7 linked regions of the Homo sapiens genome follow. The protein of the gene in region 6 interacts with the protein of the main gene of each other region in a biochemical or structural test. Each region holds a gene or a part of one and is shown on either strand. Other genes may lie near its edges. The genes, in order: NARF, FBXO7, TOR1AIP1, ZNF239, RNF123, LMNA and SMURF2.

What was found.
Region 1: the proteins of LMNA (region 6) and NARF form a complex in vitro, tested with the Homo sapiens proteins (one study listed by BioGRID).
Region 2: of the proteins of LMNA (region 6) and FBXO7, one has a biochemical effect on the other in vitro, tested with the Homo sapiens proteins (one large-scale study listed by BioGRID).
Region 3: the proteins of LMNA (region 6) and TOR1AIP1 form a complex in vitro, tested with the Homo sapiens proteins (one study listed by BioGRID).
Region 4: the proteins of LMNA (region 6) and ZNF239 form a complex in vitro, tested with the Homo sapiens proteins (one study listed by BioGRID).
Region 5: of the proteins of LMNA (region 6) and RNF123, one has a biochemical effect on the other in vitro, tested with the Homo sapiens proteins (one study listed by BioGRID).
Region 7: the proteins of LMNA (region 6) and SMURF2 form a complex in vitro, tested with the Homo sapiens proteins (one study listed by BioGRID).

Annotation. Positions count from the first base shown.
Region 1 is NC_000017.11:82,475,741-82,479,240, forward strand, and holds part of NARF (nuclear prelamin A recognition factor), read left to right. Parts: intron 1-3,059; coding exon 3,060-3,178; intron 3,179-3,500.
Region 2 is NC_000022.11:32,491,811-32,495,310, reverse strand, and holds part of FBXO7 (F-box only protein 7), read right to left. Parts: intron 2,207-3,500; coding exon 2,030-2,206; intron 1-2,029. UniProt on the Homo sapiens protein: Substrate recognition component of a SCF (SKP1-CUL1-F-box protein) E3 ubiquitin-protein ligase complex which mediates the ubiquitination and subsequent proteasomal degradation of target proteins and plays a role in several biological processes such as cell cycle, cell proliferation, or maintenance of chromosome stability.
Region 3 is NC_000001.11:179,913,285-179,916,784, forward strand, and holds part of TOR1AIP1 (torsin-1A-interacting protein 1), read left to right. Parts: intron 1-713; coding exon 714-770; intron 771-3,500. UniProt on the Homo sapiens protein: Required for nuclear membrane integrity. Induces TOR1A and TOR1B ATPase activity and is required for their location on the nuclear membrane. Binds to A- and B-type lamins. Possible role in membrane attachment and assembly of the nuclear lamina.
Region 4 is NC_000010.11:43,571,817-43,576,016, forward strand, and holds the start of ZNF239 (zinc finger protein 239), read right to left. Parts: upstream 2,801-4,200; 5' UTR 2,724-2,800; exon of another isoform or gene 2,227-2,723; coding exon of another isoform or gene 2,222-2,226; exon of another isoform or gene 1,862-2,221; coding exon of another isoform or gene 1,821-1,861; exon of another isoform or gene 1-1,820. UniProt on the Homo sapiens protein: May be involved in transcriptional regulation.
Region 5 is NC_000003.12:49,703,057-49,706,556, forward strand, and holds part of RNF123 (E3 ubiquitin-protein ligase RNF123), read left to right. Parts: intron 1-370; coding exon 371-472; intron 473-1,593; coding exon 1,594-1,700; intron 1,701-1,927; coding exon 1,928-2,126; exon of another isoform or gene 2,127-2,130; intron 2,131-2,477; coding exon 2,478-2,623; intron 2,624-2,925; coding exon 2,926-3,009; intron 3,010-3,500. UniProt on the Homo sapiens protein: Catalytic subunit of the KPC complex that acts as E3 ubiquitin-protein ligase. Promotes the ubiquitination and proteasome-mediated degradation of CDKN1B which is the cyclin-dependent kinase inhibitor at the G0-G1 transition of the cell cycle.
Region 6 is NC_000001.11:156,135,211-156,138,710, forward strand, and holds part of LMNA (lamin), read left to right. Parts: coding exon 1-102; intron 103-650; coding exon of another isoform or gene 651-690; coding exon 691-911; intron 912-1,003; coding exon 1,004-1,226; intron 1,227-1,710; coding exon 1,711-1,818; intron 1,819-1,902; coding exon 1,903-2,022; intron 2,023-2,443; coding exon 2,444-2,533; coding exon of another isoform or gene 2,534-2,554; exon of another isoform or gene 2,555-2,656; intron 2,657-3,277; coding exon 3,278-3,500.
Region 7 is NC_000017.11:64,550,808-64,554,307, reverse strand, and holds part of SMURF2 (E3 ubiquitin-protein ligase SMURF2), read left to right. Parts: intron 1-2,603; coding exon 2,604-2,724; intron 2,725-3,500. UniProt on the Homo sapiens protein: E3 ubiquitin-protein ligase which accepts ubiquitin from an E2 ubiquitin-conjugating enzyme in the form of a thioester and then directly transfers the ubiquitin to targeted substrates.

The sequences.
Region 1 (3,500 bases), on a different chromosome or scaffold from region 6:
CCCTACCTAGCATTGTGTTCACTGCCACAGGCGGAGGGATCACCGTTTCTATACAAATCAGCAATCTGCTCAGGATTCACATCAGCAGAGTTAGTTCCTTCAGTGACTTGAGAAGGTTCCATCCCAGTAGGACCTCTCATAAGGAAATCAACAAATGTAAGGAGACTGCAAAAAGTTTGTGGAAGAACAGAATTAAAAGATAAAAAGTATAAACTTTATTTCTCAACATAAGCTCCATCCTGGTCAAGACTTTTTTTTATTTTTTATTTTATTTATTTATTTATTGAGACAGAGTCTCGCTCTGTCACCCAGGCTGGAGTGCATTGGTGTGATCTTGGCCCACTGCAACCTCCATCCCCCAGGTTCAAGTGATTCTCCCAACTCAGCCTCCTGAGAAGTTGGGATTGCAGGTGCATGCCACCATGCCCAGCTAATTTTTGTATCTGTAGTAGAGACAGGGTTTTACCATTTTGGTCAGGCTGGTCTCAAACTCCTGACCTCAGGTGATCGCCCGCCTCAGTCTCCCAAAGTGCTGGGATTACAGGCACTTGCCACCATGCCCGGCTAATTTTTGTATTTTTAGTAGAGACGGGGTTGCACCATGTTGGCCAGGCCAGTCTCAAACTCCTGACCTCAGGTGATCCGCCTGCCTCGGCCTCCCAAAGTGCTGGGATTACAGCAGTGAGCCACTGTGCCCAGCTAACACTTTTTTGTTTGTTTGTTTGTTTTGAGATGGAGTCTCGCTCTGTTGCCCAGGCTGGAGTGCAGTGGCGTGATCTCGGCTCCTCTGCCTCCTGGGTTCAAGCGATTCTGCTGCCTCAGCCTCCTGAGTAGCTAGGATTAGAGGCATGCACCACCACGCCTGGCTAATTTTTGTATTTGTAATAGAGACACGGTTTCACTTTGTTGGTCAGGCTGGCCTTGATCTCCTGACCTCGATGATCTGCCTTCCTTGGACTCCCAAAGTGCTGGGATTACAGGCATGAGCCACCACACCTGGCGTTTTTGAGACGGAGTTTCGCTCTTGTTGCTCAGGCTAGAGTGCAATAGCGAGATCTCAGCTCACTGCAACCCCCACCTCCCAGGTTCAAGCCATTCTCCTGCCTCAGCCTCCCAAGTAGCTGGGATTAGAGGCGCCTGCCACCACGCCCAGCTAATTTTTATATTTTCAGTAGAGACAGGGTTTCACCATGTTGGCCAGGCTGGAATAGAACTCCCGACCTCAGGTGATCCACCCGCCTCGGCCTCCCAAAGTGTGCTGGGATTAGAGGTGTGAGCCACTCCACCCAGCCAACAGTTTTTTAAGCAGGATCTTACTTTGTTGCCCACGCTGGAGTGCGGCAGCTCAATCATGGCTCACGAGAGCTTCAACCTCTTGGGCTCAAGTGATCCTCCCATCTTAGCCTTCCAAGTAGCTGGGACCACAGGCGTGCGCCACCAGCTAATTTTTATATTTATTTATTTTTTTTAAGACAGAGTCAGGCCAGGCAGGGTGGCTCACGCCTGTAATCCCAGCATTTTGGGAGGCCGAGGCGGGAGGATCTCCTGAGGTCAAGAGTTCGAGACCAGCCTGACCAACATGGTGAAACCCTGTCTCTACTAAAAATACAAAAATTGGCCACACACGGTGGCGCACACTTGTAGTCCCAGCTGCTTGGGAGGCTGAGGCAGAAGAATCGCTTGAACCCGGGAGCCAGAGGTTACAGTGAGCCAAGATCGTGTGACTGCACTCCAGCCTGGGTGACAGAGCAAGACTGTCTCAAAAAAAAAACAAAAACAACCAAAAAAACAACACAGAGTCTTGCTCTGTCATCCAAGCTTGGAGAGCAGTGATGCAATCATAGCTGACTCCAGCCTCGAACTCCTGGGCTCAAAGCCATCCTCCTGCCTCAGTCTCCCAAGTAGCTAGGACTACAGGTGTGCACCACCACGCCTGGATGATTTTTTTATTTTTCTAGAGACAGAGTCTCACCGTGTTGCCTAGGCTGGTCTTGAAATCCTGCCCTCAAGTGATCCGCCTGCCTCACAGTCCCAAAGTGTTGGGATTACAGGCGTGAGCTACTGCGCCCGGCCCTGGGGCATTTCTCTCTGTGGCTGCTTCTGTGTCTCTGTGGGTGTTTCCTGAGCACACACGGGCGTCTTTATAGGTGAAACTTTGATTGTTAAATGGGATTATCATGTCTGACTGTGGGACATGAGCTGCCTCTCACCCTCTGGGCGACCTTCCCCGCCAGGAGTAGAGTCTCCCAAGGTATCTACCCAGCCCCTGTTTGAGGGCAGGTTGCGTGGCTCTCATGTACACAGGTGTGCAAGTGTCTGTGGGGTCAGGTCCTAAAATCAGTTGCCAGGTCAGCAAGTTCTGTGATGTTCTTATGCACTCTGACTGGGCTGTACGCCTGCGGGAAAGGAGTAGGCAGGGCTCCTGCGGTGGAATTGCTGTTGTGTGGTCAGCTGCAGTGGTGACTTGTGTTCACCCTGGAAACCACAGCAGCACTCAACCTCAGGAAAGTGCTCAGATTGTGCGGGCATGTAGTGACACTACAGATGTTGCTATTTATTACGACTTGAGGAGTATAGATTTCTTATATTTTAAAAAGCGTGCAGTTGTTGGGCTGTTAGTTTCTCGCCGGTGAGAGAAGTTGGGCAAGCATGTGGCTGCTCTCCCCTGAGCGGTAGCTGCGTGTCCTGGCTGTAAGGACGCTGTAGCTGGCCAGGCGATTTTGCACGGTGCAGCCTGGGCCGCTGCTCCTGCTGCCTTTCAGTGCTTGTTCCCCTTCACCTTTTTGGGGGACCTGTTACTCCGACTCTTACTTGTCTGTCGGCCTTGCAGGGATGCTCCCATTTCCCAGTAGCCTCCAGGCCTGCAGGTTCCCATGACCCACAGCCGGGCCACCGAGGACGGGTTTTGGGTCCAGCACGAGCTCCTGGTAAGGCCTGGGGAAAAGGTGTTCTGGCTTCACCCTGGGGCGGCAGGGACTCGAGCTCAGCATTCCCTGGTGCGTTACAGGAAGACCAGAGGAAGCAGTAAGGAGCTGACCGTGGATCCCTTCTCTCCCCAGGCTGGGTCCGATACGCCGAGCGGGTGCTGGGTCGCCCCATCACTGCCCACCTCTGCACCGCCAAGTCCCCCCAGCAGGTCATGGGCTCTTTGGTGAAGGATTATTTCGCCAGACAGCAGGTAAGCTGACCTCTCTGGAGGGCAGGAAGGGCAGGTGAGGGAGGACCATGGCACAGGGGCCCAGGAAGGGGAGGTTCCCCATCTGTCCAGCGTGGTCACGGCCCCCCAGGTGAGCAAAAAGGAAGCTGTGGCTTCAGGAAACATCAGCAGTGCTGTTTCTCACCAACGCCCGTCTCTATTCCTCCCTTCCTCTTACAACCTTTTTCTTTCTTCTTAACCTTTTCTGTGGCATCTGGTGGTTTTCCTGGGCCCATTCGGGGTAGAGTAGAAATGCTGCCCACCCTGCTGAGAATGAGGCCCCGGACCTTGCCCAGAGATGCTG
Region 2 (3,500 bases), on a different chromosome or scaffold from region 6:
TTTATTGATGGTTAAGGGTGATCATTGCTGCTCTGTGCTACATGGTAATTCAATGCAGTGTGATTCCTCAGGGACTATGGAGGAACATGTGGCTACTCTCTTCCTGCATTAACTGGTCCTACACTACCTCTTCTCCCCCTAATCTCATTTAGGTGTGTCACCTGCTTCTAATCCAACATCTCACGTTACACCAAACTGGGCAACAACCTCTGAGCTTCTGTGTTACAGCCCACGTTCATTACTGGAGGTCAAGCTGACTTAGGCTTTCATCCATATTCTGGTTACACTACTTTCTCCCAACGATGTCCTGAATGACTCGGCTATCAGAAGCATGACCATAACTAAGTATTTTTTAATGTACTTATTTATTTGAAATATGTGAAATGAGGAAAGAGAAACCCATTCAACTTTAAGTATACAAAAGAGTTTGAATAAAAGATGATATCTTCTCTACAAGTTACTACATTAGCATGGAAGTAAGATTTATAAAAGCTCTAGCTCCGTAACATTTTATCTACAGAAAAATCTGAACAGCTTACAAATGAGCTTGTGGGCCACAATCTAAAAATTAAAGAATAATTGTGCTTTAATCCTAAACTTGAATATACAAGTGAAAGGGTATTTGTTGCTTTTATAAGTATTTATATCATACTCTGCTTTTTCTCGGTGCTTCCATATACATCAGTCATTCTGTCTTTTCTTTTTTTACTATATTTTCAATTCTTTTTTGAGTTGGAGACCAGCCTGAGCAACACTGCAAGACTTTGTCTCCACTAAAAACAAACAAACAAACAAACAAAAATTGGCCAGGTGTGGGGGCGCATGCCTACAGTTCTCAGCTACTTATGAGGCTGAGGAGGGAGGATCACTTGAGCCCAGGAGTTGGGGGTGGCAGTGAGCTATGACTGCGCCACTGCACTCCAGGGCAACACAACTAGACCCTGTCTCAAAAATACACAAATAAATAAAATTGAATTATTTTTTGAGATGATGCTTTCTTGCTGCCAATTGTGACAAAATAACATTTTAAATGTCAAATTCAGGGGCATAAATAAAGCAGAAAGAGGACCTCAGGAATCAAAGAAGAAGAAAAGGAACAAACCAGGTCATTTACACTTCTCACATTTTGAAATTTTAAAAGAAAAAAAAATTTTAGCAATCCAAATGACTCTACATGATATTCTTTTTTTTTTTTTTTTTTTTAAGGGAGCTATCTACCCACCACATTTTTACAGTTACTAAGGTGGTATGTGTTAACATCACATATAGCAGTATCATTCAAACATTTATGTGAACCACATAAAAATTTTACATTGCAACACAGTATACACCTACCTATACATAATTGAAATAGAAGTTTACTCCTATTTTATAAATAGGAATACTATTTATAAAATAAATATGGATTTTTCCATTGTGGGTTTTGTTTTTTTGTAACATGACCCATTAAATGGATTTCATGACCCACCCCAGGGTCAAACATTCTGAAAACACTAATATGTAGTAAAATGGTGGTAGCAGAAAAAAAAGTTCCACAATCAGGCTTTTGGCCTTGTAGCAGGAAATCCTGATGCACAAGTTCTACCATCATCACTGCCAAAATAATTACCAGGTCACCATAATGTGACCATACAGAAATAAAGCTACCCTAGCAACTTGGAACAGGTCAACAAAACTCTCCTAACTTACACATTGGTCTCAACCATGAAAGCAGTTCAGAAATGCCAGCTCGTTTCTACGTCAGATACTGACTATGGTCTCTAGTGAGAAAATAAGCCTGTTTTACTTCCATTTCTCTATCCTGAAATAATCTTCTTAGTCTAATGAGTGATTTGTGTTGTGCAAAACACAAAAATGAGAGAGTTTTAGGGACACAGGCACAGGTATATGAAGCTTAGAGTCAGTCTCTTTAAGGCTATTTATTGTAATCATTTGCAACAGAAAAATCCTACAACTAAAAACTTTTGGTGAGCTGAGTAATCAAGACAATAAGAGCCCTTTCTTGTGAATATGTCATTACGGAAATCACCTCGAAAATCACGCAGATATAAAAACCTCCACAGGAGTGGGTCATTTGAAGCAGTAAAGAGGTCACGACAAACCGCAGACAAAGACAAGACGGAACGAACATCCAGAAGTCGGAAGATCCGTAGTTTCAGTTCCAATGGGAGGACGACCAACCCAAATACATCTGGTAGGTTCAGTGCTAAAAGGAAAAAAAGAGAAGTAACAGGTATTACTGAGTAAAGAACATCTGGCTTTCTCCACATAGTCAACAAAGTTGCCACTTGTTCCTTTCTAAAGTGACAGAAAATTAGATGGTACTCTTAATTATCCCCAAGTATGCATCATCTACAACAAATTTTTAACCCCAGCTTGACTATAATTACTATTAACTCATATAACTCTAGGCCCTTATTCCCTTTATGTTTTAGTGGAAAGACAAATGCTTTTTAATATAAATCAAATAACTATGATAATTGCTAAATACTAGCCAATGGTCTCTTCTGTCTCAAACATTATTCAATACAACAAAATTTCTTCATTCAACTACAGAAAATGAATAATTCACTGGCTTTTATATCTGTTTCCATGCCAGTTATTAACTGTGTGCCTTTGGACAAGTTATTTAAATGCTATCTTAATTTCATCTGTAAAATGGATTAATATTACATTCCACCTACTTCAATGAGTTGTGAGAAGTAAATGTATTAACACATATTAAGTGCTTAGAACAATGTTTGGCACACCAAGCATAAGCACTCAAGTGTTAGCAAATTACTATTATCTGAAGTCTAGCAGGCTAAAAAGAGATAGATAAATTCAGAAACAAAGCCAAGAAAGGAAAGGAAAAATAATATGTCCCAAGTTCAATGAAAATTATGTTTTGGTTATTAGCACCTTCAAAATATTTGTGATACTATTCTCCACTAGCAAAAATAATCAAAATCCAACAGACATATCTACATGTTTTTCAATTGGCATTACTCCCTTTCCCTTATCACCAACTACAGAGAAGACTACTGTAATAATAGACATGCCACCATTCAACTTGACACCAAAAACGTTTTACTTATTTCTCTACATATAGAGAGCAAATAAAAGCCACTATCTATTCATATAAGTCAAACTACCTACTAGTTGGAGAATTGTGGTAGATTGTATTATGGTTCTCAATCACTTCCTACGCATAATTATACTTCCCCATCCCACCACCATCAGGCTTGGCCATTTTTGTCTTATTTTTTCTGACAAAACGTGAGTGGAAGTGACATATATAATTTCTGGGCAAAAGCGTTGAACCAACACATAATTGGGCCACTGGCACTCCTTTCCTTCTACTACAAGAGGAGCATGTCCTGGATAAAGACAACTCCTTCAGCCAAAGCAAACCCACACACAACATGTACACGAGTGAGAAGTAAATTTCACTGTAAGACACTGAGATTTTAATTTTTTTAACTGCAAAAAAATGAGAAGCTAATATAAGGATCTCGAGT
Region 3 (3,500 bases), about 24 Mb from region 6:
TTAGATGAAAGTAGAAATTTGACAGAGTTGAGAGAAAATTATTTTTGAGCTCTATTGTTTAACCACAAGCCTAAAACAGAATTACTTTATTACTTGTCTATTAACAGAAATGATGAGAAGTTTTTAAATGTGATTTTAAAATACTACTAGTATTTGAAATGGTCAGAATCCCCAGAGGAAATACTGAATCAGTTTGAGGTAGAAAATAGTGAGGATTAAGATTTTTATATTAAAACACCTTATCCAGACAGCTCAGTAGTCTGTAATCCACATTTTGTCCTTATTTTCCCCCTCTTTACAGCATCTTCACCAGGCAAGAGTTCAATATATGGCAGTTTTTCAGATGGTATAATATGTTTCATTTTATTATGGTGTGCTTAGTTTCTTTGTCCTTTTTATCCCGGAAGTTTCACCAATCCCATTAGATACTTAATGGGTCAAATACTTCCAAACTTTCTCTCAAAACTAATTATTGTGTGCTTTGTACTAGACCCCACCATATGCTGTGAAAAGCTATGAAAGAAATAGGTCATGTGTTTCAAGGAGCTCTCAGTCTAATCGGCACTCAGATATTCTACTTTTTCTTCTGCTTCTGGCTGATCTCTGTCTTCTTTTTTTCCTGGTGGAATTTGTATCTTCTTTGTCTACTAGAAATAAATACTCAAATTATGAAGCATAAGTTGATAGTCTTATTTTATTACTCTCACCATTAGATGACAGCATTCTGAAATCAGAGCTTGGAAACCAGTCACCATCAACCTCCAGCCGACGTAAGTTTATGTATTCAGTTTTTATTAAATATTTCTGTAAAATTGGTATTCCATAATTGTTTAAAAATGTTTTTTGACAGCAGTATGACTCGATGCTATTTGAAGAATCACATTTTAAGCACTTGAGAGGAAAAAGTATATATTCTACTAGCAGTGAAATTCTTTATAGACAAACTTTATGAGACAACATCTGGTATTGCTCTTCACTTAACTGTCTATAAGACCAAAAATAATAGCTAAAATAAGTAAAGCTACTAATACTGTTAACTGAGAAAACCATGCTGAATTGAAAGAAAGTTAGCCAGAGCATGACTTTATGGGATTACAATGGCTTTCGGAGTCTGCAAACCTGTATTTGAACTAGATTGGACCACTTACCTCCTTTACAGCCTTGTGGCAAGTTTCTTTAGTTCTCCAAGTCTTATTGTCCTGAAAGAGTACTAAGAAAATAACTTAATGGGCTGAGCGTGGTGGCTCATGCCTGTAATCTCAGCACTTTGGGAGGCCAAGGCAGGCGGATCATGAGATCAAGAGATCGAAACCATCCTGGCCAACATGGTGAAACCCCATCTCTACTAAAAATACAAAAATTAGCTGGGCGTGGTGGCACACGCCTGTTGTCCCACCTACTCAGGAGGCTGAGGCAGGAGAATCACTTGAACCCAGGAAGCGGAGGTTGCAGTGAGCCGAGATTGTGCCACTGCACTCCAGCCTGGCAACAGAGCGAGACTCTGTCTCAAAAAAAAAAAAAAAAGAAAATAGATTAATGATGATTCTGAAATTTTTTGTTCTTGGTACCGCTTTACACTAGTAAAGTTATTAAGAACCTCAAAGAGCTTTTTGTTGAAAATATGGGTTATGTCTATCCATATGTACCAGGAAATTAAAGTTGAAACATTTTTTAAAATATGTATTAATTTATTTTAAAATAATTTAGCAAGAAGAGTAACAGATCAGATTGCTTTGCATTTTTTCTAATCTCTTTAATGCCTAGCTTTAAAAAATGGATTTGGATTATCATATATGCTTCTGTATGCAGTCTGTTACAATATATTATTTTTGTTGAAGTATCTACAAAAAATCCAGCTTTTATACAGATATGAAAAATTTTAATAGCCTCTTCAGATAATTGTGGCTATTCTTTTTTGAACTCTCCAAAACTCAACAAGTGGTAGTTTCTTAAATGTTACTTGAAATAGGATATCTAAAACCATCTTACTGAGCTTTTAGTACTCTATTACATTAAAAGTCATTGGTCTTTCTTATACTTTGAATGGAGTATCATGCACTGGTCATTTGGAAAACATTGGTTCACTGAGGAATGCAGATTTTCCAAACATTGACACATTAGGAATGTAATAAAAAATATCACATTTGTTAACATCACTGCCAATCTCAAGACTTTAAAAAAGTGTTAAAGGGTGGGGTTCGTGGCCCATGCCTGTAATCCCAACATTTTGGGAGGCCCAGGCGGATGGATCACCTGAGGTCAGGAGTTCAAGACCAGCCTGGCCAACATGGCAAAACCCTGTCTCTACTAGAAATACAAAAACATTAGCTGGGAATGGTGGCACGCACCTGTAATCCCAGCTACTTAGGAGGCTGAGGCAGGAGAATCACTTGAACCTGGGAGGCAGAGGTTGCAGTGAGCCAAGATCGCACCACTTCATGTCATCCTGGGCCACAGAGCGAGACTCCATCTCAGAAAAAAAAAAGAAAGTGTTAAAGTACAATATTGGGAGTTGTCAAGCTCATGGTGGCAGATTTAGGATTCTAAAATCCTAATTTTCACTTGAAAGCAAATATCTGCCAAATACACAAGTCTGACTGTAGTTTGTTACTTGTTCTTTCAAGTAAAAAATAGTATTCCATGAAAAATGTGCTAATTCGCCTTGTAATTCATTTGCACAAAATTCTTTTCCTTGAGACAACCATGGTACTGTATGATGCAGCAGAAGTGCTTTGTGCATACCTTCCATTTGTTCAGAAAGAATATTGACATATGTACTCAAGGATTCAGATTTAATAAGATAAATAATTAACTGCTTCATAAAGGACATTCTTAAGTAAAAGAATGTCCCTTTGTTAAATCTTGAATGCATGGCAGTGAAAAATAACAATGACTACACTCGTACAGTTTGGTGCCACTGCCCTGTAACTCATGCTAAGGCATCAGAAGTTTTTCTCACCATAGCTTTTGCGTCATCAGTGCAAATGTCAACACAAGGTGAAAGTCAAATAACATCTTAGTGTTAGAAGAATAGCTTTAACTTCATGGACCCCCCTCCCCACAAAATAGGGTCTTGAGGTACCCCACAGACCACGCCTTGAGAATTGCTGCTCTAAAAGGTCCCTACTAAAATTAATAGCCTGAAACAGTCAATAAGTAAAAGATGTAAAAGTATTATTGTTACTATCAACTGAATAAATGAAGTAGAATATGAGAAAGTACTTTATAAACCGAAAAGCACTAGATAAATATAAATTAATCCTATTATTATTGCCAATAGTAACTAGGGATGAGTCACAAACTAAATTTTACCAGTGTTAACTTGCATACCACAAAAGGCATCAGTGAAATTAATCTAAAGGGACAGCTAGCTATTATAACACGTAGAAGATGTTCATTTATATTGCATCCTTTTCTTTTTTTTTTTTTTTTTTTTTGAGATGGAATCTCTCTCTGTCACCCAGGCTGGAGTGCAGTGGCGTGATCTCGGCTCACTGCAA
Region 4 (4,200 bases), on a different chromosome or scaffold from region 6:
AAAGTACTGGGATTACAGGTGTGAGCCACCATGTCTGGCCTCAACTCATCTTTAAATCCCCAGCAACTACCACAATTGACTTGGAATCTGAAAGATAAATATAAATTCACATTCAATTTAAATGAATAATAATACAACTAAAAGAAAACATAAAGATGGTCAAGCCCAAGACCCTCAGTTTACAGAGAAAAAAACCACAGTTCATAAGGGCGAAGTGACTTACCCAATGTCACAGAGGAAAAGCAGGGTTAACTAAGACTCCCGCCTTTCAGCAGACCTAAGGACAATGTGTGGTACATAGAAAACACACAATGCTTGGAATGAAGTCCTTCCTTTAAATTAAAAAAGTTGTTGTGTAACACACACCAGAATCTCAAAATTTACTAAACTGGCAATCCCCAGTTGCAGCGGCAGTGAATACTTAATCATTAGGGAGCAGGCAGAAGCGAAGGAAGGAAAATGTATTGATTCTACTAAGGTTAATCTCCCTTGAAGTCCTCAATTACTTTTCAGGGCACAGAGAAGCCATGCTCTCAGTACCTCAAGTCAGCTTACTGTCCTCTAAACAGATTTTTTCTAAGAGCTCATGTGTGTGAGGGCTGTATTTGCCAAGCAAAAAGATGGCCTTTGCTGGTAGTGTTAAAAAACATTTTTTTTCCCTTAAAACGCAGTCTGATATTTTATTCAAACAACTTCTGATGTGATGACCTGTTTAGTTAATGGAGAAAGAACAGCCTGAAGGAAGAAAACACGGGGTTTATTTCTGGCCTTCTGCTCTCTGAAACAAAGGACAAGGCACTTTCCTTCGGCTCTCTCAGAGTTAGCCGAGTTAGAGCTCTCCACCATAAAACGCCAGGACAGGGCAAAGAGGGGGCCGACCATCTCAAACACCATGGGATTCTAAGTGGGGGCTGACCATCTCAAATACCCTGGGAGTCTAAGGGTTAATTTTGAGGTAACCTCCTACAGATGGTTTTATGGGGACAACTGAAAACTCTCTTTAAAAAAGTACGACTTGGTAATTTAAAATTTACTGGAACAGTTAAATATGTAGACATGCTAGTGAAAGAGAACAAATCAACCTGAGTATAAAGGATGAATAACTCATTTTACCTACCCTAGAGACACTTATAGTGTATAGAGAGATATTTCACAATAAACCTTTGGATGTACAAAGATCAACAGAATAAAAAAGGAGTGAAACTCTCCTTTCACTAGGTCTGGAAGAGAGAAGGAAGCTTAGTTCTTAAAAAACACCACAGAGAGTTCTGATGCATAGCCTAGTTGAAAAGCATTTCTAGAGTGATTTTGTAACCACTGTGCTGCCATTTAACGAATTTCCTCGTTTTTGACTCATAGTTAATAAATTATCACTATTAATATGCATTTTTTTGTGTACAGGTAATATAATATGTTCATCAAGATGGTAAGCTCCTTGAAGAAAAGCACCGTGGTTTATCATTCTATCTGTTTTGCTGAGACCACTTAGCACTGGGATGAGTATGGAATAGCTTGGAATGACTTTCAATGTGAGTGAAATGTCTGGCAGGAAAAGGCAGGCTTTGAGAGGCTCCCCAGGAGGGCACAGCCCACTGCTCTGAGGAGTGGAATAAATTCTTGGAGGCAGGATGGGCCAGTGAAAACTCTCTGTGCAGACCCTGGTGACATCATCTGCTAGCTACATGTCCTTAGTATCTTAATGTCCCTACATCCATAGCTATAAAATACCGTACTGGGGGCCTGACAATAAAGAAAACAACACATGGCACAGGGACATTTCAGGGAGATGGCATTTTAGGAGAAATGGAACGCCAACTCACCCGGACCCTGGTCATTTCTTACTCCCAGAGGGGATGGATTCCTGGAAAGGCAGAGTTAGGGAAAGAGAAAAAGCCATGAAAATCAAGTCCAGCAAGACTGCGGGGAAAAAGTTACTCCGCTCCTGCCTCTGACGCTTCTTCAGTCACTTCCACCCACACTCCCTCCATCAGGTGAGAGGTGAAGCATTTTCTGTCACCACCTTCATCTCTCTCCACAGGGCTTTCGATTAAACAAGCCAAGTTTTCCCCCCAAAACCAAGAGGCTAGGTAAATTCCGCAGCCGCCGGCAGCTCGAAGCCGTGCCCATTTCCTCTGACTTTCCCGATCTCTGTCCTAAAGTTCTAGTTAAGAGGAGAAGCTTCTCGGGATGGATTTCGGTTGCCCAAGACGCCTTCCCCGACCTCATTCTCAGGAGCCTGGCTCGTTCCTGCGGTGCGGGGGCTCAGATGCAAGCTCTTTTCAGCGAAGGCAGTGCTGCGGACAGAAACCTCAGTCTCTTACAGGAGCCCCCGTCCGTCGCCTAACGTCCACCGAAAACCCCCCTGCAATAACGCCCGTCACAGGCGAGGAAAAGGCCGGCGTGGCCAACCACGAAGCCCCCAGCCGGCCCAGGCCAGAGCTCGGCCAGGAGGGAGGAGGGGCCATCGGAGGCGCGGCCGCTCAGCTGCAGGGCCCCACAGGCTTCGGTGTGGCCGCAGCCCGGCCCCGGGGGCGCAGCAGCTCGGAAATGCGGCGCCGGGACACACGTGCCGCCGCGGGCCGCGCCTCCGCTGGTCGCGTGCCCTACCATCGCCGCCCTCCCGGCTTCCGCAGCTCGGCGGCCCAGCGCCTTACCCGCGGCACACCCATTTCCTGACCCCTGAACGCCTCTGCCAGCGGCTGGGGAAGCCCGGCCAGTCTCACCTCCCACGTGGAACCCCACGCCTGCAGGGGCCAGATTCCGGATGCTGACCGCTCGCGCGCCTAGGGCCCCGAAATACAAGTCCCAGCAAGCCGCGGGCGAACCACGCCCACTTCCGGCGCGGGCCCCTGAACTCTGCGCTGTGCGGAGCGGGATTCTTGGGCGGAGGGGACCATCTTTGAGTCAGCGACGCGTGTATTCAAGTCCTCCTCCTCGTTTTTTATTACAAACAAATAAGAATTATTTTAGGAATACCTGTTAAGGTGATTTTCATTTGTTAAAATACTATTGGGGGAAAAGGATGTAAATACCCATAATTTCATCTTTACCTTTCAAAACATTCTGAAGTGAATATTTGCCATTCGGCATCTTCCATCTCACCTCTGAAGTTCATCCATTTAACAGATATTAATTGAGAGCCAACTGTGTACCAGGAGCTGTTCAAGATGCTTGCACAAAAGTCACTGCCCTATTCTAGTTGGGGAAACAAGCAATCCATAAATATAGTAAATATATGGCGTCGTGTGTGTCATGAGGTGGTACTGAAAGCATAGAGCTGGGCGGGGTGTGGCGAGGTGCGTTTGTGGGTGTGTAGGACTGGAGGTGTACTTTGCAATTTTAAATAGGGGATCTTGGAACAAACACAGGAGGTGAGGGAATTAGACAAGTGGCTCCCAGCAGTCAGAACTCTCCTAAACGCACACAAGGGTTGTTGATACCAGGATTTTACGTTTATTTCACTTCTCACCGAGTGACACAGAGCTACCCATTTGGTCTTTTCCCAATTCCTTTCTTTCAGATTTATTTTGGAGAGGAAAGAGATGTTGCCTGGACCTCTCTTCTACATCCTCCCCCTTCCTTGGTGTATTAGTTTCCAATTGCTGTCACAACAAATTAACACAAACTTAGTAGTATAACAAACATGTATTCTCTTAAACTTCTGGAGGTGCCAAGTCTGAAATCAAGTTTTACTGGGCTTTATAAAGTCAGTGTTGGTGGGGCTAGTTCCTCCTGGAGGTTCTAGATGAGAATATTTCTTTGCCTTTTCCAGTTCCCAGTGACTATTTGCATTCCTTGGCTTATGGCTCGCTCCTTTATCTTCAAAGTGCATGACTGCAACCTCTGCCTTCATCATCACATCACATGCTCAGGCACTGGCTCCTCGTGGGTCCTTCTAATAACGACTGTTGTGATTACATCAGGCCCAGCTGGCTAATCTGGGATAATCTCTTGACGTCAAGATCCTTAATTTAATCACATTTCAAAAAAAATCCCTCTTGCCATAGAAATTAACATCCACAGCTTCTGGGGGTTAGGACATGGACATATTTGGGGGACTATTATTTTCAGCCTGCGATGCTTGGAGAGGCCCACGTCCCCTTCGGTCTCCTCCTCAGAGATGCTGTCTTACCTTTTGCCTGGGGAACACAAAATGTCTCCCTTGGACCTTACTCCTCTCCTCATTCTTCATTGGAAAAC
Region 5 (3,500 bases), on a different chromosome or scaffold from region 6:
GGTGGGTGCTGGGGGGCCCTGTGTTTGAGTCCCCAAGGGTCAGTGGGAGCCTTACCTGCCCTGGATTGGGGGATATCCCACAGGACTGGGGCTGGGCCTCTCTGCTTCTCCTGAGTGAACGGCTGCCATGAGTACCCCCATCACCCCAAGTTATGCAGCTGCTGGCTCTGACCTGAAATGGCAGGGGTGGAGAAGAGGTAGGGGAGGTCTGTTTCTTGGTCCAGGAGACAGTTTCTCTGTCTGCCTGGATGGGTGAGTGGCCAAAGCCAGAATTCCCAGGCTGTGCTAGGCCAGATTGGAGGGGAGGGCTGTGGGGAGGGTCTTCCTACTGGGCCGTGACCACTGGCCTAGCCTCCTCAATTCCTCGCAGAGGCCTACATCCCGCCCCAGGTCTTCTATAATGGCAAGGTGGACTACTTTGACCTGCAGCGCCTGGGGGGCCTCCTCTCGCACCTGCGGAAGACCCTCAAAGGTGTGTACAGGCCTGTGGGCCGGGAGCAGTTCTGGGGCCAGGTGGGGGACTGTCCCTGAGCCTGCTCTGCTGTGGATGCTGAGCCATCCTATGGCCACCAGAGGGTGCCCAAGTCTTTCCACCCACTCAGGCAGGGAGACACTGATCTGCCTGCCCTACATCTGGGCAGCTTCTCTTTCCCGCCAGCACCCACGCCATAGGGGTCGGGCGTGCCTGGCAGGGGACCAGGGATCTTGGTGAGGTGTGGATGGGGCGTGCAGGTGCTGCCGGAGCTGCCTTCAGGGATGAGCACAAGCTGCCCCGGTGCAGGGCTGAGGGCACAGCGAGAGCAAGGCCCTGAGCCGGGCACAAGGGTGGGTCTGTGCTGTCAGAACCTCTCTCTGGCTGCCGCAGTGTATACGCCGGAGTGCAGGGGCTGAGAGACAGGGAGCCCAGGTGTCCCCACACAGGAGATAAGGGCCTGCCCAGGTAGGTAGGGGAGGGCACAGGTGGAGGAGAGGAGTCAGGATGACCCCAGGCTTCCTGCCAGAGGTTGTGTGGATGGGGTGCCATCAGGGAGAGGGGCTGCAGGAGGTGGTGGAGATGAGAAATTCTGTTTGGACACAGCGCGTTTAGCGGGGAGCAAGGCCTGGGCGGGGGGCAGCGAAGGCGGGGTCAGTTGTCAGCACGGTGGTGGGGATGAGCCTGGGATGAGGCTTGGCTCCCACTGGGAGTGCCCAGAATGAAGCAGCCCTGGCATCTCCTTTTGTTTATGGAGTAGTCAGAGAGTGGGGGAGGCCCTGGAGAGCAGGAAGTCCTGGGAAACAAAGCCAGGGACCAGCAGGAAGGGCATGATGGGCTTACATCTATGTAGAATAAAGAAAGTCAATTTGAAAATAAATGAAAAAGAAGGGTGTGATGGGGAAGGCCTCCTGTTACTGAGTGGCAGCTAGACGGGGCCCTTGAGATGCAGAGTGAAGGCTGGGTGGAGGAGGCGGAGGGGCGAGGGGCAGATACGGTGCTAAACCGGGCTCTGCAAGGCCTCCTGCCCAGTGTGCTGGGCTCTCTCACCGTCCTGGGCACTTCCACTGTGGCCCCTTGCGCCACCACTGGCCTGAGAACCCTCCTGCTCTTCCTCCCAGATGACCTTGCTTCCAAAGCCAACATTGTGATCGACCCACTGGAGCTCCAGTCAACCGCCATGGATGACCTAGATGAGGATGAGGAGCCAGCCCCAGCTATGGCCCAGGTGCCGCAGTGGGGGCAGGCGGTGGGATTTGTGTTGGGCTTATCCTGTATCTTATGGGCAGGGGTCTCATCCAGGGCCACTTCCCGCTCCATGCAGGCAAAGGGTTTCTCACTGGGCTGGTGCCTTGCTGTGGGTGGAGGCATGGACCCTCCCTCACAATTCTGCAGCCCCGTGGGCCAAGGGAACCCTGAGCCAGCCCTGGTCCTGGCCGCCTTTCTTCACTGCAGCGCCCCATGCAGGCCCTGGCTGTTGGGGGGCCACTGCCCCTGCCCCGGCCCGGCTGGCTCAGTTCTCCAACTTTGGGCCGAGCCAACCGCTTCCTCAGCACAGCGGCTGTGAGCCTCATGACCCCACGGCGGCCTCTGAGCACCTCGGAGAAAGTGAAGGTCCGCACGCTGAGCGTGGAGCAGAGGACCCGTGAGGACAGTAGGTGCTTGGTGGGGTCAGGCAGGTCCCCGAAGGACCCTTCCACAGTGTACAGTCCCCGATCCGGGCAAAGCCAAAATACACCCCATGCCCTCCCAGCCCTGTGGCCTGGCAGCATCCCAGGAGTGCAGGAAGCACACTCCGAGGGCAGGAGATCAATGCCGCAGAAATAGGTCCTGGCACCGCAGGCCTTGCCCTGCACTCCACCCCTACCCCCATGCCCCCATGGGCTCCCCGCGGGTCCCTCCTTGGGCACAGGAATGGGAGAGATGATTTCCTCTCCTGCTGTGAGGCAGGCTCAGGAGAGCCGGGATGGCCCTACCCTTGACCCTTCCCTCCCCAACTCCCCAGTTGAAGGCAGCCACTGGAATGAGGGCTTGCTGCTGGGGCGGCCCCCCGAGGAGCCTGAGCAGCCCCTCACCGAGAACTCGCTGCTGGAAGTCCTGGATGGGGCGGTCATGATGTACAACCTCAGCGTACACCAGCAGCTGGGCAAGGTCGTGCACTCTTGGACCCCGCATTGGGTGGCGGGTGTTGTGCGTGTTTGGTTGTGTGTGTATTCCTGTGTGCACATGGGCCCGCAGGGCTGCCTGTTCAAGACCGTGCATGGGAGCACATGCCTCAGCGAGGCTGGTTTCTGCTCCTGCTGCCTCAGTCTGACCTGCTGACTGTTGTGGGAATGGGACCGCCCTGGGCCTAAGGTTGGGACCTTGGCAGGGCTGGGGTCCAGACTGGGTCTGAAGAAGCCTGGATGAAGTGCCCAAGGGGCACTCTGGACATGTGGTCCCATGCTGTGTAGATGGTGGGTGTCTCCGATGATGTCAATGAATACGCTATGGCTCTGAGGGACACAGAGGACAAGCTCCGCCGGTGCCCCAAGAGGGTAAGGCCCACATAGTCTTGGTGAGGGGCAGCTTGCTTACTCGTACAGGTAACCACAGATGAAGTCTGGTTCTGGGGGCTGCCCTGGCAGTTCTCATCCCCACTCTAGCCCTGGCCATAGCACGCCAGTGAGAGTGGGGCTGGCAGCAAGGCCTGGCACCCATCACCAGTGTGGCCTGTGCCTAGGTGCCCCCCACCCCCTGGGCCCAATAAGTGCTGAAGCACACCCACTCTCCTCATCAATTATTCATTGACCCTGAGTGCTTCCTCGGCCACTTGCAGAGTCAGCAGGAAGCAGGGCCTGGCTCCACTGCACCCTCCGGAGCCCTCTGCTGTAGCTGCCCTAGCCCAGGAAGGTGGGGCCCAGTGTGTCCAGGCTGAGCTTCCCTGACAGCCCCCACCCACCCCGACCTGTCAGCAGATCCCTGGGTCTGGCAGCTGGGGGAGCAGCGGTTCTGGCATCAGGTCCCTGGGTGCTCTGGCCAGCGGCTC
Region 6 (3,500 bases):
GAGAGGAACAGCAACCTGGTGGGGGCTGCCCACGAGGAGCTGCAGCAGTCGCGCATCCGCATCGACAGCCTCTCTGCCCAGCTCAGCCAGCTCCAGAAGCAGGTGATACCCCACCTCACCCCTCTCTCCAGGGGCCTAGAGTCTGGGCCGGATGCAGGCTGGAAGCCCAGGGTTGGGGGTGGGGGTGGGGGTGGGAGGTTCCTGAGGAGGAGAGGGATGAAAAGTGTCCCCACAACCACAGAGAAGGGTCGCAGGATGTGGAGTCAGATGGCCTGTGTGCTGTTTCTGTACACTCTTACCTCACCTTCACTTCTCAGGGCTTTGGTTTTCCCATTCGAAAATGGAGGCTGTTCTTAATCTCCCTAACTCAGAGTTGCCACAGGACTCTGCAATGTGAGGTGTTAAAAGCATCAGTATTTTTCTAGTTGGCTGTGCTATTTGTGACAGGAGAAAAAGTCTAGCCTCAGAACGAGAGGTTTCAGTTAGACAAGGGGAAGGACTTCCCAGTTGCCAGCCAAGACTATGTTTAGAGCTTGTGATGTTCAGAGCTGGCTCTGATGAGGGCTCTGGGGAAGCTCTGATTGCAGATCCTGGAGAGAGTAGCCAGGTGTCTCCTACACCGACCCACGTCCCTCCTTCCCCATACTTAGGGCCCTTGGGAGCTCACCAAACCCTCCCACCCCCCTTCAGCTGGCAGCCAAGGAGGCGAAGCTTCGAGACCTGGAGGACTCACTGGCCCGTGAGCGGGACACCAGCCGGCGGCTGCTGGCGGAAAAGGAGCGGGAGATGGCCGAGATGCGGGCAAGGATGCAGCAGCAGCTGGACGAGTACCAGGAGCTTCTGGACATCAAGCTGGCCCTGGACATGGAGATCCACGCCTACCGCAAGCTCTTGGAGGGCGAGGAGGAGAGGTGGGCTGGGGAGACGTCGGGGAGGTGCTGGCAGTGTCCTCTGGCCGGCAACTGGCCTTGACTAGACCCCCACTTGGTCTCCCTCTCCCCAGGCTACGCCTGTCCCCCAGCCCTACCTCGCAGCGCAGCCGTGGCCGTGCTTCCTCTCACTCATCCCAGACACAGGGTGGGGGCAGCGTCACCAAAAAGCGCAAACTGGAGTCCACTGAGAGCCGCAGCAGCTTCTCACAGCACGCACGCACTAGCGGGCGCGTGGCCGTGGAGGAGGTGGATGAGGAGGGCAAGTTTGTCCGGCTGCGCAACAAGTCCAATGAGGTAGGCTCCTGCTCAGGGTCTAAGGGGATACAGCTGCATCAGGGAGAGAGTGGCAAGACAGAAGGATGGCATGTGGAGAGAGGAACATCCTTGCCCTCAGAGGGTGGACCAGGGTGAGCCTGTATATCTCCTCCACACTCTGGTTCCAGGCCTGGCTCCTGGACTCTTTGGCTGTGAGACCTTGAGCAGGTTATTTAACCTCTCAGAGCATCAGTTTCCTCATCTGTAAAATGGGGATGAATACTGATCCCTAAGTCTTTGAGTTGTCAGGAAGATGAAAGATAAGGTATCCGTGTGCCTGGTGCTGCGTATGTGTCCACAGATCATGGCTATTATCCCCGGGGGAAGGGCAGTGACAGGGGTGTGTGTAGATGGAAGGAGAGGCCTCAATTGCAGGCAGGCAGAGGGCTGGGCCTTTGAGCAAGATACACCCAAGAGCCTGGGTGAGCCTCCCCGACCTTCCTCTTCCCTATCTTCCCGGCAGGACCAGTCCATGGGCAATTGGCAGATCAAGCGCCAGAATGGAGATGATCCCTTGCTGACTTACCGGTTCCCACCAAAGTTCACCCTGAAGGCTGGGCAGGTGGTGACGGTGAGTGGCAGGGCGCTTGGGACTCTGGGGAGGCCTTGGGTGGCGATGGGAGCGCTGGGGTAAGTGTCCTTTTCTCCTCTCCAGATCTGGGCTGCAGGAGCTGGGGCCACCCACAGCCCCCCTACCGACCTGGTGTGGAAGGCACAGAACACCTGGGGCTGCGGGAACAGCCTGCGTACGGCTCTCATCAACTCCACTGGGGAAGTAAGTAGGCCTGGGCCTGGCTGCTTGCTGGACGAGGCTCCCCCTGATGGCCAACATCGGAGCCAGCTGCCCCCAACCCAAGTTTGCCAATTCAGGGCCCCTTTCTAGAGCTCTCTGTTGCAGGCTCCAGACTTCTCCACCCAGTAGGCAAACCAAAAGATGCTTCCTCAACAGCACAAGGGGTGGAAGTTAGACAGTGAGGATTGTTAAAGGCAGAGCCATACTCCTACCCGGAGAGCTTGACAGTGTCCCTCTGGGGTGGAAATGAGTTCCTTAGCTCCATCACCACAGAGGACAGAGTAAGCAGCAGGCCGGACAAAGGGCAGGCCACAAGAAAAGTTGCAGGTGGTCACTGGGGTAGACATGCTGTACAACCCTTCCCTGGCCCTGACCCTTGGACCTGGTTCCATGTCCCCACCAGGAAGTGGCCATGCGCAAGCTGGTGCGCTCAGTGACTGTGGTTGAGGACGACGAGGATGAGGATGGAGATGACCTGCTCCATCACCACCACGTGAGTGGTAGCCGCCGCTGAGGCCGAGCCTGCACTGGGGCCACCCAGCCAGGCCTGGGGGCAGCCTCTCCCCAGCCTCCCCGTGCCAAAAATCTTTTCATTAAAGAATGTTTTGGAACTTTACTCGCTGGCCTGGCCTTTCTTCTCTCTCCTCCCTATACCTTGAACAGGGAACCCAGGTGTCTGGGTGCCCTACTCTGGTAAGGAAGGGAGTGGGAACTTTCTGATGCCATGGAATATTCCTGTGGGAGCAGTGGACAAGGGTCTGGATTTGTCTTCTGGGAAAGGGAGGGGAGGACAGACGTGGGGCATGCCCGCCCTGCCTCTCTCCCCCATTCTTGTTGCATGCATATCCTCTCATTTCCCTCATTTTTCCTGCAAGAATGTTCTCTCTCATTCCTGACCGCCCCTCCACTCCAATTAATAGTGCATGCCTGCTGCCCTACAAGCTTGCTCCCGTTCTCTCTTCTTTTCCTCTTAAGCTCAGAGTAGCTAGAACAGAGTCAGAGTCACTGCTCTGGTTCTCTGTCCCCAAGTCTTCCTGAGCCTTCTCCCCTTTTATGTCTTCCCTCTCCTCCTCCGGGCCCCTAGCCTCCCAAACCCCCATTGCCCGCTGGCTCCTTGGGCACAGAACCACACCTTCCTGCCTGGCGGCTGGGAGCCTGCAGGAGCCTGGAGCCTGGTTGGGCCTGAGTGGTCAGTCCCAGACTCGCCGTCCCGCCTGAGCCTTGTCTCCCTTCCCAGGGCTCCCACTGCAGCAGCTCGGGGGACCCCGCTGAGTACAACCTGCGCTCGCGCACCGTGCTGTGCGGGACCTGCGGGCAGCCTGCCGACAAGGCATCTGCCAGCGGCTCAGGAGCCCAGGTGGGCGGACCCATCTCCTCTGGCTCTTCTGCCTCCAGTGTCACGGTCACTCGCAGCTACCGCAGTGTGGGGGGCAGTGGGGGTGGCAGCTTCGGGGACAATC
Region 7 (3,500 bases), on a different chromosome or scaffold from region 6:
GGCCAACATGACTTCTGCTGTCTACTTCTGGTTAAACTGAGACAGCCAGCCCAGTTTCATCATGGAGGAGGAGCTGTACAAATGTGTGAATACCAGGAGATGTGGGCACTGGGGCCACATGTGGTGTAGCTATCACAGGTGGCAATTCAGAAGGGCTTTTGTGCTTTATCTTACTAACACTTAGCCTGTTTATAAATGAGCACATTGTGAGTTTAGGGATAAATGTAAATAAATGTTTTTCAGATTTCATAAAGTAAAAATTGAGGAATTTTTATGTATTGGGCTAATTTGGCTTATGAGAAATAAAAAGTCCTCTAAATATAGAACTATGGTAATCAGTTTTGGGAGTTTGAACTTGAACTTTATGTACACAGAAACTTGCATGATATACTTTCTGTGTATAGATTATGTTCCCAAATCTTACTAAAATGTTTCCTAGTTTAAATATGAGGTCCACTTGATTGGAGTGAACACTGGCATAGCTTTTCTGGAAAGCAGTTTGATACCAGCAGCATGTGCCCTTCAACTAGCAGCTCTGTGTTTAGGGCTCTTCTGCAGAAACACACATGTAACTGAACGAATACGGGGAAAGACGGTCAATTAAATGCTACTTGTGAAAAAAAGTTACACTACTAAAATGGTTTTAGAGAAGAATGATTATATTATACATTCAGCAGAATATTATGTGGATATTTAAAAGTGCATAAGCTGTCAAATTTTAAAAGTAAGTCTTAGAAGAATTATGTAGGAACAAAATCCATGGTTTTTTTTTTGTTTTTTGTTTTGTTTTTTTGGGTTTTTTTGAGGTGGAGTCTCGCTCTGTTGCTCAGGCTGGAGTGCAGTGGCAAGATCTTGGCTCACTGCACCTCTGCCTCCCAGGTTCAAGTGATTCTCCTGCCTCAGCCTCCCGAGTAGCTGGGAGTACAGGTACGCACAACCACACCTGGCAACTTTTTTTTATTATTAGCAGAGATGGGGTTTCACCATATTGGCCAGGCTGGTCTCAAACTCCTGACCTCGTGATCTGCTTGCCTCAGCCTCCCAAAGTGCTGGGATTACAGGTGTAAGCCACCGTGCCTGGCTGTTTTTTTATGATTATACTGAAGATGTTCAGGAGGCTGCAACCAAATAAAGTTTTTGCCTAGGATGAGGGAGTGGAGATGATGCGACTGGAAATAGGAAGGAGAAAGAGGGTAAAAGAATGGACTTTCATATTTTACTGTCTCCATAGTTAATGTTTGATTTTTTTGTTATATACGTAAAAAGTATGTATTACGTTTCTACTTAAAAAAAATGAAAGAACAGGCTGGGTGCAGTGGCTCATGCCTGTATTCCCAGCATTTTGGGAGGCCAAGGTGGGTGGATCACCTGAGGTCAGGAGCTCAAGACCAGCCTAGCCAACATTGTGAAACCTTGTCTCTACTAAAAATACAAAAATTAGCTAAGCGTGTTGGCAGGCACCTGTAATCCCAGCTACTTTGGAGCCCGAGGCAGGAGAACCGCTTGAACCTGGGAGGTGGAGGTTGCAGTGAGCTGAGATCGCACCACTGTATTCCAGCCTGGGTGACAGAACGAGACTCCACCTAATATAAATTAAAAATAATAAAAAAAGAACAAATGAGAATTTCCTAAGTCTTAGCAGTGTCTCCTTTTCAAGACCTCGTGTGTCCTACTCAGTCCCTGGATCCCACTCTTCAGGGTTCAGTCGTGTTTACAGCACGTAATAATCCCTTGCCAACTACAGTTATTAGATTAAAAATTCAAAGAAAAACTTTTACAGTTACACAGTTTTGCTGTCCCCTTAACCCAACAAACAAAAATACGGTCCTCCAAAGGATATAATGTTAAGTAACTTATTTCTTAAAGTAGAGAACCATTTCTCCAAATTTGGAAATGTTAACAAATTTGACAGATGAGTAAGTTCTGTGATGCATGAGATGGAGAAGTTTTCTTGGGTAGATAAATAAAAACAATTCACTTATAAATCGTACATTCACACAATAGATGTAGTTTAGTGCATTTTTTTATTGGTAAAATTACATCTTCCAGAATTTTTATATCCTCTAGAGAACAATGATTATTTAATCAAAAAGTGCTTGCTATTGGCTTTTACTATTTATTCTTCTCATTTTTGGTATGAGGATTCTCTACCTCCTCTTCTCCCGTAGGCCTCCCTCAAATAGAAACAAAACACCCAACACATTCAAATTACATTTGCAAGTAAAATCAGAAAAATAAGTCATTTTTGAGTGAAAGAGCTCTTTATTCTAGTTATTGGCATGTATGCTGTAAGTTTAGAAAGAAATTTCATCAAGACTCAGCTCTAGTAGACGTCCTGTTTCCTGGGAGCTTCTCTGATTTGAAGGGTTGCTCTGCTGATGCTGCTTTTGTTAGTAGTTTACCACTTTTCATCAACATTGAACTGTGTCACACCTCAGGGTTCATTTATCCCCATTAGTCTGAGATTTATTGTTAGACTTGAGGCTAAACCGTTAATGTTAGATGCTTGTAAGATGCGGTGTTGCTAAAGTAGAGATTTATAATAATAATTACCAGATCTGAAAATACATGTGATTATACGAAATCCTGCCGAATGTTTACAGGCTCTATGTGAACTGGAGATTTTTACGAGGCATTGAGGCTCAATTCTTGGCTCTGCAGAAAGGATTTAATGAAGTAATTCCACAACATCTGCTGAAGACATTTGATGAGAAGGAGTTAGAGGTTAGTGCATTAGTATTATAACATCACTAGTGTAACAAGGAAGGATTGGGAATTATTTTGTTACTTAGTTTTAGAGGAAAGCATATTTCTGGTGCTTTCTAAGTTTCATGGTTCTATGCTTGAGAATTCTTATTCACAGGAAAAGTCTTTCATGCTTTTGAAGGCCTTTCATGCTTTGGAATTTCTGTGAGTGAACAATCTGTCTCTCTCTCTCTTTTTTTTTTTCTGAGACAGGGTCTCACTCTGTCACCCAGGCTGGGGTGCAGTGGTGCAATCATGGCTCACTGCAGCCTTGACCTCCTGGGCTCAAATGATCCTTCAGCCCCTCAAGTAGCTGAGACTACAAGCATGCACCAGCACCCCTGGCTAATTTTTTTGTTTTTTTTGGTAGAGACAGGGTTTTGCCATGTTTCCCAGGGTGGTCTCAAACTCCTGAGCTCAAGTGATCCGCCTGCCTTGGCCTCCCAAAGTGCTAGGATTATAGGCTTGAGCCACCATGCCCAGCTGTGAGCAGTCTCTCTTATATTGTGAAAATTTTTAATTTATTTTTCTATCCTGTACTTTCTTGTTTTAAACAGATTTCGTGACTTATATGTACATTCTTCCAATATATGTCTATTCCCTAACTTAGTGGTTACTGATTTAGTTAAGTAAAACCTCATTAATCTACCATTTTGAAATTTATTTGGGTAAGAGCCTACTCTGAATTAGTTTTACACTAAGCTTGCAAGAAAGCATTTGATAGACAAGATCATCGAGAAAATAACTAAAACACC